Linked DNA regions of Homo sapiens. The protein of the gene in region 1 purifies or fractionates together with the protein of each later gene. This does not show direct contact. Each region holds a gene or a part of one and is shown on either strand. Other genes may lie near its edges.

Region 1 (3,500 bases):
AGTGAGACTCCGTCTCGAAAAAATTAAAAAATAAGTAAGTAAAAAAATAAATGATGGAATAGGGTGTAGTTACTAAAAGGAACAATTCTGAAAAATGTAGAAATAGTTAAAAAAAAAAAAAGTATGTGCAAATACAAAATAAATGTACATATAAAACTATCACTGTATGTTCAGATAAGGCGTGGACATTAACATGGGATACATAAAAGGCGATTTTTTTTTCCTTATTTTTTAAAAACATTTTTGCTTTCGTTCCCTTACTTTGTTGACACTGATAGAAAATGTGGGGAGAACTCCTGACTAGGAGGACCCTCCATGCACGTCCTGTTTGCTTGGACTGCAGCAGCATGGTCCAGTGGAAAGGACAGGGATGCTGACATCAGACAGGCTTGAATCCTGGCTCTACCACTCACAATGTGGTGTGAACACAGGCAGGTATTTAACCTTTCCCAGCCATCGTTACTGCTTCTGTTAAACAGGCTGAAAAACATGCCTTGGTTTGTGTGGATTAAGCAACAACTCATTTCGTATTCCTAATCAATAATTTGGCTCCACAAAAGCTAGTTTTTCTTTGTCCTTTAGTTACCTGGGGCATGAGCTTTCTTGTTTTTTTCCAAAACTTGTAATGGGAGTCACTGCTTGCAGAGCGGTCTGATTCAACTTGATCGCGACTGCCTAAAAATCCACAGGAAGACACACTCAGTCCCAGGAGGTGGACGCTTACCTTCCAGGTTGAGAAAAGGGCTGAGATGCCGGTGGCTGATAATTACCTCAGGGTTGTCGGTCAGGTAGATCTGTCTGGAGATGTTGTTTATTGCACATATCCACTGTAGAGGACATTAAAAAAGAACACTGAATCCCAAAGTCACCCACCACGTTAGGAAAGAAATATGACAAACAAAATTTTTACCTCTTCATTTTCCTTTCTGCTCTCAGCCTGGAGGATTATTCCCCTGAAACAAAAGTGTCTAAGTAATTAAGTGCTTCCCTGATCTCAGTGACTGGGAATTTCTCTACATAAACTGAACTTAGCTGGGGTGTGGGAGGAAAAGTGCCATGAAGGCAGCATGATGAGAGGGAAAGAAAATGGGGTTCCAGGGCCAGGTGCAGTGGCTCATGCCTGCAGTCCCAGCATTTTGGGAAGGTGAGGCAGGAGGATGGCTTGAGCCCAGGAGTTCGAGACCAGCCTGGGCAACATGGTGAAACCCCCTCTCTACAAAAAATACAAAAATTAGCTGGGCGTGGTGGCGTGTGCCTGTAGTCCTAGCTACTAGAGAGGCTGAAGTGGGAGGATCGATCGAGCCCAGGAGGCTGAGGCTGCAGTGAGTGGTGACTGTGCCACTGCACTCCAGCCTGGGTGATAGGGCAAGGCCCTATCTCAAACAAAAAAAAAAAAAAGAAAAAGAAAAAAGAAAATGGGCTTGTAGGTCTGGCTCTGCCCTGATTCACTATGTGATCTTGGACAAACATGGCCGTTTCCCTGGGCCTCAGCATGTTCATCTATGAAATGAGAAGGCGGGACTCGGATCTTCTAGCCCAAATCTGTGTTTGTACAGTGAGATCCACCTGTTGACCTCCTCTAATGATCCAAGATGACCAGGACTCCAAGCCCAGCCACTCCTCAAACCATGCCCAAAGAAGGACTTGGCAGCCCATTCACTCCTTTCCCAGAACTGAAAAGTCTGCTGCGTATGGAGGCCCGGGAATAAGGTAACAGTAATACTGCCCTACCTTTGTGGAGGCGTTAACTCTTTTTTTTTTTTTTTTTTTTTTTTTTTTGATGGAGTTTTGCTCTTGTTGCACCAGGCTGGAGTGCAATGGTGTGATCTCGGCTCACCACAACCTCCGCCTCCCAGGTTCAAGCGATTCTCCTGCCTCAGCCTCCTGAGTAGCTGGGATTACAGGCATGCGCCACCACTAACGTGCCCGGCCAATTTTGTATTTCCAGTAGAGACGGGGTTTCTCCATGTTGGTCATGCTGATCTCAAACTCCCAACCTCAGGGGATCCACCTGCCTCGGCCTCCCAAAGTGCTGGGATTATAGGCGTGAGCCACTGTACCCAGCCGAGGCTTTAACTTTTTAAAGAGACCCCACATCTGCCAGTTCCCTTGTTCCTCTCATCTGTGGCAGATGGAGTAACATAGATCTTATCCCTATTTTATATCTGAGGAAAGTGAGGCCCAGAGGAGGTAACTGCAAAGGACCATGATGAGCATCCAGGAATCTCCATTCCCAGGTCATTTCCCATCACCAAAGCAGGAAGGATGAGGTCTAAAGCTGCTCTGCCAAGCTGGGAGGAGAGACATCATCCCAATGCCGTCCCCACCCCTACCCCTGCTGTTCAGGTCAAATCTTAATAGAATGCAGTGTGAGAAGAGCGGCTCTGATGACGGGCAGGGCCACTCCTCTCCCCAGGCAGGTGAACCCTGAAGCCCCTCCATGGGACCCTGAAGCCCCTCCATGGGACCCTGAACTCCTTGGAGCAGTTTAAAAACCACCACTCTGAGAGGGGATCCCACTGGGATGGGATCTACTGTGAATGGCCACAGCCTGCGGATTGGTAAAGTACCACCTCTTTGGGGCCCCTCAGGTACACAGGACATGTGGGAACAGCCTGGCAGCCGACGATGCTGCTGCAGTGGAGTACACTTCTCACAACTCCTGCTTCTGCTGGAAAAATGGCCTTCTCAGGAAGGTCGTCCTTACCAAAATAGTTACTCTCCCCTGCTGCAATCCAAACACAAATGCTTCTTTACAACAGGCTAGGAGTAGCCACAGCCTTCTCTCTCTGAGAATCTATGCTAACAAGCACGACTTCTGTTGCTGTCTCACACACGTAGGTCATCTCTTCTCCAAAGCCACAGACAAACCCTCACTTATCTCCATATGGGATAAGGCAGGCTGGATCCCTTATGGGTCATGCGGGCTTGTTTAAAGAGAGCAGAAAATCATCCTCCTGAAAGGTCAACAATACCCAGATTGGGGCCTCTCCCACAGAGGGCTGGCACATAGGAATGAACTAGGAGGCCCTTGGAACGGGTGGAACCACTATACTCATTCTCCTCCCAAATAAAACGCGTGAAACATACGATTTTCCATTGGGCGTGGTGATCTGGAAGCAGTAGCGCCGGTCTTCGCAATCCACGGCCATCACTGAGCAGTTGTCCAGGTCCTGGATCAAACCTCCAGCCACGGCTCCCCTGGGCTGACACATGAGATTCCCGCCTTGGGTGAAGAAATAAAGCCTCTCCCAGGTGGTGGTGACCAGCCCTGTTTTGCTGTGAGTTGTGTTTTAAAAAGCCCATTAGTACCAGAAAGCACCAGCGGCCACCTCCAAGTCTTGCTACCTCGTTATGGGTACTGGTGGCATTTTAGAAATAATGTGTTTCTTTATATCGTTAAAGCAAAACTGCCCATTCAAGTGGAAAGAGCAGCAGAAGGGTACAATTTAGCTGGAATGATCTGGGAGATCATGGGCTCTGCTTCCAAGGGAGACACC
Region 2 (3,729 bases), on another chromosome or scaffold:
CACACCTATAACCCCAGCACTTTGGGAGGCTGAAGCGGGTAGATCACTTCAGGTCAGGAATTCAAGACCAGCCTGGCCAACATGGAGAAACCCCATCTCTATTAAAAATACAAAAATGGGCCAGGCATGGTGGCTCATGCCTGTAATCCCACTTTGGGAGGGCGAGGCAGGTGGATCACCTGAGGTCAAGAGTTTGAGACCAGCCTGGCCAACATGGCGAAACCCTGTCTGTAATAAAAATACAAAAATTATCCAGGTGTGGTGGCACATGCCTGTAATCCCAGCTAATCGGGAGGCTGAGGCAGGAGAATCACTTGAACCCAGGAGGCGGAGGTTACAGTGAGACGAGATTGTGCCACTGCACTCCAGCCTGGGAGACAGAGCAAGACTCCATCTCAAAAAAAAATAATAATAATAAGATGGATTCAAGGATGAAGGGATGGATAGGCATGCCATAGAGCAAACATAATAAAATTGTAATAAAATGTTAATTATAAAATCTGGGTGATGGGTATACGAGTGTTTACTGTACAATTCTTTAGACTTTTCTGTGTATTGAAAAATCTTCATGACAAAATGTTAGGGTAAAAACTTTATCACAAGACAAAATTCTAAAATGAAGTACAAAGTTTCTTCCTATTTTGTCTATAGCTGTAATAAATACTACATCAGAGGAGGTGAGAAGTAGTTGCCACTTTTACTATTATTTGTTTAAAACATCCTTACTGCTGTTACTTCTGGACCTTCCTGCCACTCCTAGAATACAGTCTCCCTCTCTGCTACAGTACACTCCATAATCTCTGTGGACTTCATCATCATTCCCATATGCAACCCAATACATCAACTTTAGAGCTCCTAATTGTCTTACCTGCTTCATCTCTGGAATCCTTTTTTTTTTTTTTTCTTTTTTTGAGACGGAGTTTCGCTCTTGTTGCCCAGGCTGGAGTGCAGTGACACAACCTTAGCTCACTGCAACCTCCACCTCCAGGTTTCAAGCGATTCTCCTACCTCAGCCTCCCGAACAGCTGGGACTACAGGCACACACCACCACATCCAGATAATTTTTGTATTTTTGGTAGAAGTGAGGTTTTGCCATGTTGGCCAGGCTGGTCTTGAACTCCTGAGCTCAAGTGATCTGCCCTCCTTGGCCTCTATCTCTGGAATCTTAAAACTCCAAAATATAACAATTGTCATCATCTCTAATCACATCCCCTATCTACTCCCACTATCCTTCTCTTCTAACTCACCAAGATTTTGAATCCATGGAGCCCTAATTTTTCTTCCAATCCATTATTTCTCTTATATACCCTTACTTCCTCTCTATCACTTGAAATATCCCTATCTTCTTAATCTCTACTGCCGCTACCTGCAACCAACTGTCTTCTCTCCCGGCTTACCTGAACAGATAAGCGCTATTGGAGGAAAATCTCACAACCACCAGATCAACCCTACTCTGAGTTTATGGTCTCCACATTCAGCACTGCTGAGCAATTCCTCTCTCTCCCTCTCTCTCTTGCTCTTTCTTTCCCATGGCTCACTGCAGCATCAGCCTCCTGAGCTCAAGGGATCCTCCCACCTCAGTCTCCCAAGTGGCTGGGACTACAGGTGCGTACCACCATGCCAGGCTTTTGTTTTGTTTTGTTTTTTGGTAGAGACGGTGTTTCACCATGTTGCCCAGGCTGGTCTTGAACTCCTGGTTTCAAGTGATCCTCTCACCTCAGGCTCCCAAGTGCTGGAATTGCAGGCATGAGCCACCGCACCTGGCTTGCAATTCCTTTCTAAGGCACTGGTTGGCTCCTCTACACTCCACAGCAGCAATTCCCAGACTTCATTATTCCTTCTAAAGTCCTTACTACTTTCCTTTTCTTCACTCTGTAAAAAAAATTTGCCTTTCATTTCATCATGAAAATGGAGGTGATTTGGCCAGGTGCAGTGACTCATGCCTGTAATCTCAGCACTTCGGTAGGCCGAGGCGGGCAGACTGCCTGAGCTCAGGAGTTCAAGACCAGCCTGGGCAACATGGTAAAACCCTGTCTCTACTAAAACACAAAAGATTAGCTGCGTGTGATGGAGTGCGCCTGTAATCCCAGCTACTGGGGAGGCTGAGGCAGAGTTGCTGGAACCTGGGAGGTGGAGGCTACAGTGAGCGGAGATCACACCACTGCACTCCAGCCTGGGCGACAAGAGCAAGACTCTGTCTCAAAAAAAAAAAAGAAAAGAAAAGAAAATAGAAGTGATTATTTAGCATGAACTCCCTGCTCCCCAACCTACAAACCCATCTTTATCACTTTCCCTCCTGTATCTCATAAGAAAAGATGTCATCACCCCTGCCAGAGGTAGCATCACTTAGTGTTTTATTCATTAATGTATTTAGAGACACAGTCTCACTCTGTAACCCAGGCTGGAGTGCAGTAGCCCAATCATAGCTCACTGCAGCCTCAAACACCTGAGCTCAAGCAATCTTCCCACTTCAGCCTCCTGAGTAGCTGAGACTACAGGCATGTACCACCATACCTGTCTTCTTTTTTTTTTTTTTTTCCCTTGTAGAGACAGGGTCTCACTATGTGGCCTAGGCTGTTCTCAAACTCCTCCTGCCTTGGCCTCCCAAAGTGTTGGCGTCAATAGCATGAGCCACCATGCCCAGCAATATAGTGTTTAAAAATACAGATTTTAGAGTTGGGGGAGGGAGGCCATGGTGCAAAAATAAATAAATAAAATAATTTTAAAAATAAAAATAAAGATTCTGTAACTAAATTACATGGGCAAATTTAACTTTCCAAACCTTGATTTTCTCTCCTGTAAAAAGGAAGCCGTAATAGTATCCTATGAGAATTAAATGAGAACACAGGTGAAGTGCTTACCTTATCTCCCAAACAGTTCAAGGCAAATCCCATTGCTTTGTGTTCCTGAATCTTCACCAGCATTCTCTATTAGCTCCTTCCTCAAAGGCTCTTAGTAAGTTTTTGTCATCTCCAAGCAAGAAGCAAAAATGTCTTACCCAATCTTGAATCTCTTTTTTGCCTCAGCACTATCTCTTTTCCCTTCCTTTCCAAGCTTCTAGAAAAAAATAATCTGAGCAAAAAGGTCAGCAGCCCTTGCTATTCTTACTTTTCCCATGTTCTTCCATCTTCTACTATCACAATAAAACTGCTCTGACATAGTGACCAATGACCCCTTAGCTGCCAAACTTAACACTTTTCAGGCCCTTTGACTTTTCTATAGCCTGGTATGATCAATGACTCTTTCTTTTCTTTCTATTTTTGTTTCTTTCTTTTTCTGAGACAGGGTTTTACCCTGTCACCCAGACGGCAGTGCAATGGCACGATCATGGCTCACCTCAGCCTCAACATCCCAGGCTCAGGCAATCCTCCCACCTCAGCCTCCTGAGTAGCCAGGACCACAGGTGCGTGCCACCAAGCCTGGCTAATTTTTTTTGTTTTTTGTTTTTCTTTTTGTTCTTTTCTTTTTTTTTTTTCTTTTTTTCTGAGATGGAGTTTCACTCTTGTTGCCCAAGCTGGAGTGCAATGGCACAATCTCAGCTCACCATAACCTCTGCCTCCTGGGTTCAAGCAATTCTCCTGCCTCAGCCTCCTGAGTAGCTAGGATTACAGGCATGCGCCACCACGCCCAGCTAATTTTGTATTTTTAGTAGAGATGGGGTTTCTCCATGTTGGTTAGGCTGGTATCGAACTCCTGACCTCAGGTGATCCCCCGCCTCAGCCTCTCAAA
Region 3 (3,729 bases), on another chromosome or scaffold:
CCTCCTGAATAGCTGGGACTACAGGCGTATGCCACCACGCCTGGCTAATTTTTTGTATTTTTAGTAGAGATGGGGTTTCACCATGTTAGCCAGGATGGTCTCGATCTCCTGACCTTGTGATCTGCCTGCCTCAGCCTCCCAAAGTGCTGGGATTATAGGCGTGAGCCACCGCGCCTGGCCACAGAAAAATTCTTTATACTGTATTTGCAACTTTTCTGTAAGTTTAAGACTTTCTTTTTTTAAAGTTACTAGTAAGAAAGATTATTCAGACTATACCTCCATTAAATAGGAATCTACATTTATAAGAAAAAAATTATGACAATTCAGAAGTAGTAGATGCCATTTTTTTTTTTTTTTTTTGGAGATGGAGTTTCACTCTTGTTACCCAGGCTGTAGTGCAATGGCACGATCTCAGCTCACCGCAACCTCTGCCTCCCAGGTTCAAGTGATTCTCTTGCCTCAGCCTCCCAAGTAGCTGGGATTACGGCGCCCACCAACACAACTGGCTAATTTTGTATTTTTAGTAGAGACGGGGTTTCTCCATGTTGGTCAGGCTGGTCTCAAACTCCCAACCTCAAGTGATCCGCCCGCCTCAGCCTCCCAAAGTGCTGGGATTACAGGCATGAGCCACCACGCCCGGCCGATGTCCTTCTTTTTTTGTGCACTTTAGAATATCATCATCTGTGCAGGTTAAAGAATAAAAGAGCCCTTTCCAGTCACAGAATTCAATGTATATCTGTAGGTATCTATTAGAAAGACTAAAATAATACCAGTACCTCCCAAGCTGTCAAGATCCTCAAGAATCCTGCCAAATCTGTGAAATAAAGCAAACAGTGAATTAAATGCAAATCATGTTGGTCTCCCTTTAAAAATAAATAACACACTTCAGGGTGATGAAAATGTTCTAAAATTGACTGTGGTGATGGATGCACAACTCTCTAAATATATCAAAACCATGGAACTGTACACTTTAAACAGGCGAATTGTATGGTGTGTGAATTATATTTCAAAATTGTTATAAAACAAGGAAATAAAAACAAATACATAAAAATAGCACTGTGTTACCTTACGGTGTTTTGAACAGTCAAATATTTCTCTCGTAATTCAGGCTCACTGCCCAAAGGCAAGAGAACTTCAATATAACTGTCCTTCATTCTCCTAGGAGGCAGTCCATCCTGTGATTTAGCCAAGAAACTATGAAGTAATTTCCTTTCTTCCATTGCCTTCACATGGTCTCTGAGAAGAAAGGATGCAGGATTCATAAAACAAGAGCAGTTCTAGCCCACAATTCCAGTGGTACACAGGCCAGTAAGATACCATCAAAGGAGGAAAAAGAAGGTCTGGGCCTACTTTCACCTTCTCTTCCTTCCCTCCCTTCCCACCTGCCACTTGGTGAAATTGATCATTTCCGGTATCATTTCTCAAGCTTAAAAACATTCTTAAGGCCAGGTGCAGTGTCTCACGCCTGTAATCCCAGCATTTTGGGAGGCCAAGGCGGGTGGATCACACGAGGTCAGGGGTTCAAGACCAGCCTGGCCAACATGGCAAAACTCCGTCTCTACTAAAAATACAAAAAATTAGCCAGGTGTGGTGGTGGGCACCTGTAATCCCAGCTACTTGGTAGGCTGAGGCAGGAGAATTGCTTGAACGTGGGAGGCGGAGGTTGCAATGAGCCAAGATCACACCACTGCACTCCAGCCTGGGCAACAGAGCAAGACTGTCTCAAAAAAAAAAAAAAAAAAGAAAACTTAAAACTGATATAGATATACCCAAATGAGCCATATATTCACCCTTATCAAAAAGTTTACTCAAAGACCAGAATATTTGAAATTAAATTAAAAATTTAGAGAGATGGACAAAATAGTATATATATATACATATAAATATATATGCTAAAGAATGGCTTGGCCACTCTACTTTATATTCCCATTTCTCACCTGACAGTTCTCGGATTCTTTGAGCCCCAGTTCTCTCTCTCTCTCTGCCTTCAATTTCAGGAAAGAGAGACAGAGGAGGGAAAATGGACTATATCCAAAGGAAGTATGGAAGGCAGAACAAAAGGTAAAGAAGAACATAACATGAAAAGGAGACAGAAAGGGAAGAAAAAGAAGAGAAGATTAAGGTGAAAGAGAAAAGAAAGACAAGGGGATACGGAACGACAATGTTGATAAGAACATTAGCTAAGATGTCTTTCTAAGCTTAACTTATAAAGTATTATTTCCAGAAATGTTTACCCTACAAAAACTACAGGAGATAGAGGAATGAGTTAAATGACACCAGTAAATCCAGAATGTGGAACATTCTCAAGACAAATGGCTTGGCCTCCTTAAAGTCAAGCTCATGGGGGAAGAATAGGGGAAGGACGACTGTCCATTACTCTAGATTAGGGAAGACTAAAGAGTCATAACCACCAGATGCAACATGCAATCCTTTATTGGATCTTGATGTTTTTTAAACAGCTATAAAAACATTTTTGTTAAAAGGAGTAATCTATTACACAAAATGGTAACAGTTGAGGAAATGTGACTATGGATGAGTAATATACTAGCAAGGAATTGCTGTCAATTTGATTACATGAGAGAATGTCTTATTTGTTGGAGATAAGCGAAGGCTGGTTTTATAAAATGTTTACTGAAGATGCACGCTGAAGTGTCATGGTGTCTATAATTTACTTAGAAATGGTTCAGGCAATATGTGTATATTGGAAAATTTGGCAAAATATTAATAAGTATGGAATCCAGGTGGTGGGTACACAGGTATTCATTCTTTCTACCTTTTAGTAAAGTGAAATTTTTCATATAAAGAATTTAAAAATAAGTCATTAGATAATTTCTATACCAACAATAGATTATTATATATCTAGTGATCACTCGTGTTTTTTCTATCTCATTTTAGCCTCAAAATTATGTACACCAAGAGGGATATGATCCTACTTTACAACAAGGAAATACTGCGAGAAAGAGAAAGACAATATGGGAGGCCTGACTAATTTTGAACTGACAAGAAGCAATAAAGGAGTCAAGTTGCATGAAACAGAGAAACTTAGCGACTTGGGTTCAAGTCCCAAACCCTGACATTTAATCATTCAATCTCTGAGTTTCAGTTTCATGTGTAAAAAAAGGAACAGGAACATATGTCGTAAGCACGTCACAAGTTTTGTTATGAGAATCAGTGAAGTAATATACACCTAAATGCACTTTGAAAATGCAGAATATACGTAAATCATCTTCTTTCATGACAATGAGGTGTCATCTGATGAGTATGTTGAAATGTTGACCTTCTCCCCCAAGCAAAATACTTCTCAACCTATCTCTGAACATAGGGCTCCCCATCCCCACTGTGAGACCATCAACTGAGCCTAAATACAGTGTAGTATAATACCTTGGGGATGAAAAGAATGAATGAAAACAAAGATGCATACCTCCAGTTTGTGGATGCTCCTACTATCTCCCGCAACTTATCTCGAACTGAAACAAAAATAAAGAGGTCATTCCATGAAACAAAGAAATATGAGAAACGGATTATGGCAATGAGCTCAAGAACTACAAAAAGCAATTCATGCACTCAAAAGATTTAAAGATCCATAGATTTCCATTTAATGCCACAACAAACAGCTCAGGGACAGGATCAAGCCTCTGCTCCCTAAAAACCTGAAAGAACTATACTGTCTCTTTAAAGGTGCACAAATGAATACCTTTGTGCCAATCACTAGGGTTTATATAAACAAAC

What was found.
Region 2: the proteins of APPL2 (region 1) and SOS1 purify together in Homo sapiens (co-immunoprecipitation; one study listed by IntAct). This does not show direct contact.
Region 3: the proteins of APPL2 (region 1) and ACOT9 fractionate together in Homo sapiens (co-fractionation; one large-scale study listed by BioGRID). This does not show direct contact.

What each region holds. Positions count from the first base shown.
Region 1 is NC_000012.12:105,194,675-105,198,174, forward strand, and holds part of APPL2 (DCC-interacting protein 13-beta), read right to left. Parts: intron 3,280-3,500; coding exon 3,091-3,279; intron 954-3,090; coding exon 911-953; intron 853-910; coding exon of another isoform or gene 828-852; coding exon 771-827; intron 676-770; coding exon 587-675; intron 1-586. UniProt on the Homo sapiens protein: Multifunctional adapter protein that binds to various membrane receptors, nuclear factors and signaling proteins to regulate many processes, such as cell proliferation, immune response, endosomal trafficking and cell metabolism.
Region 2 is NC_000002.12:39,110,836-39,114,564, forward strand, and holds part of SOS1 (son of sevenless homolog 1), read right to left. Parts: intron 1-3,729.
Region 3 is NC_000023.11:23,729,751-23,733,479, forward strand, and holds part of ACOT9 (acyl-coenzyme A thioesterase 9, mitochondrial isoform a precursor), read right to left. Parts: intron 3,468-3,729; coding exon 3,422-3,467; intron 1,237-3,421; coding exon 1,066-1,236; intron 815-1,065; coding exon 777-814; intron 1-776. UniProt on the Homo sapiens protein: Mitochondrial acyl-CoA thioesterase. Catalyzes the hydrolysis of acyl-CoAs into free fatty acids and coenzyme A (CoA), regulating their respective intracellular levels. Regulates both mitochondrial lipid and amino acid metabolism.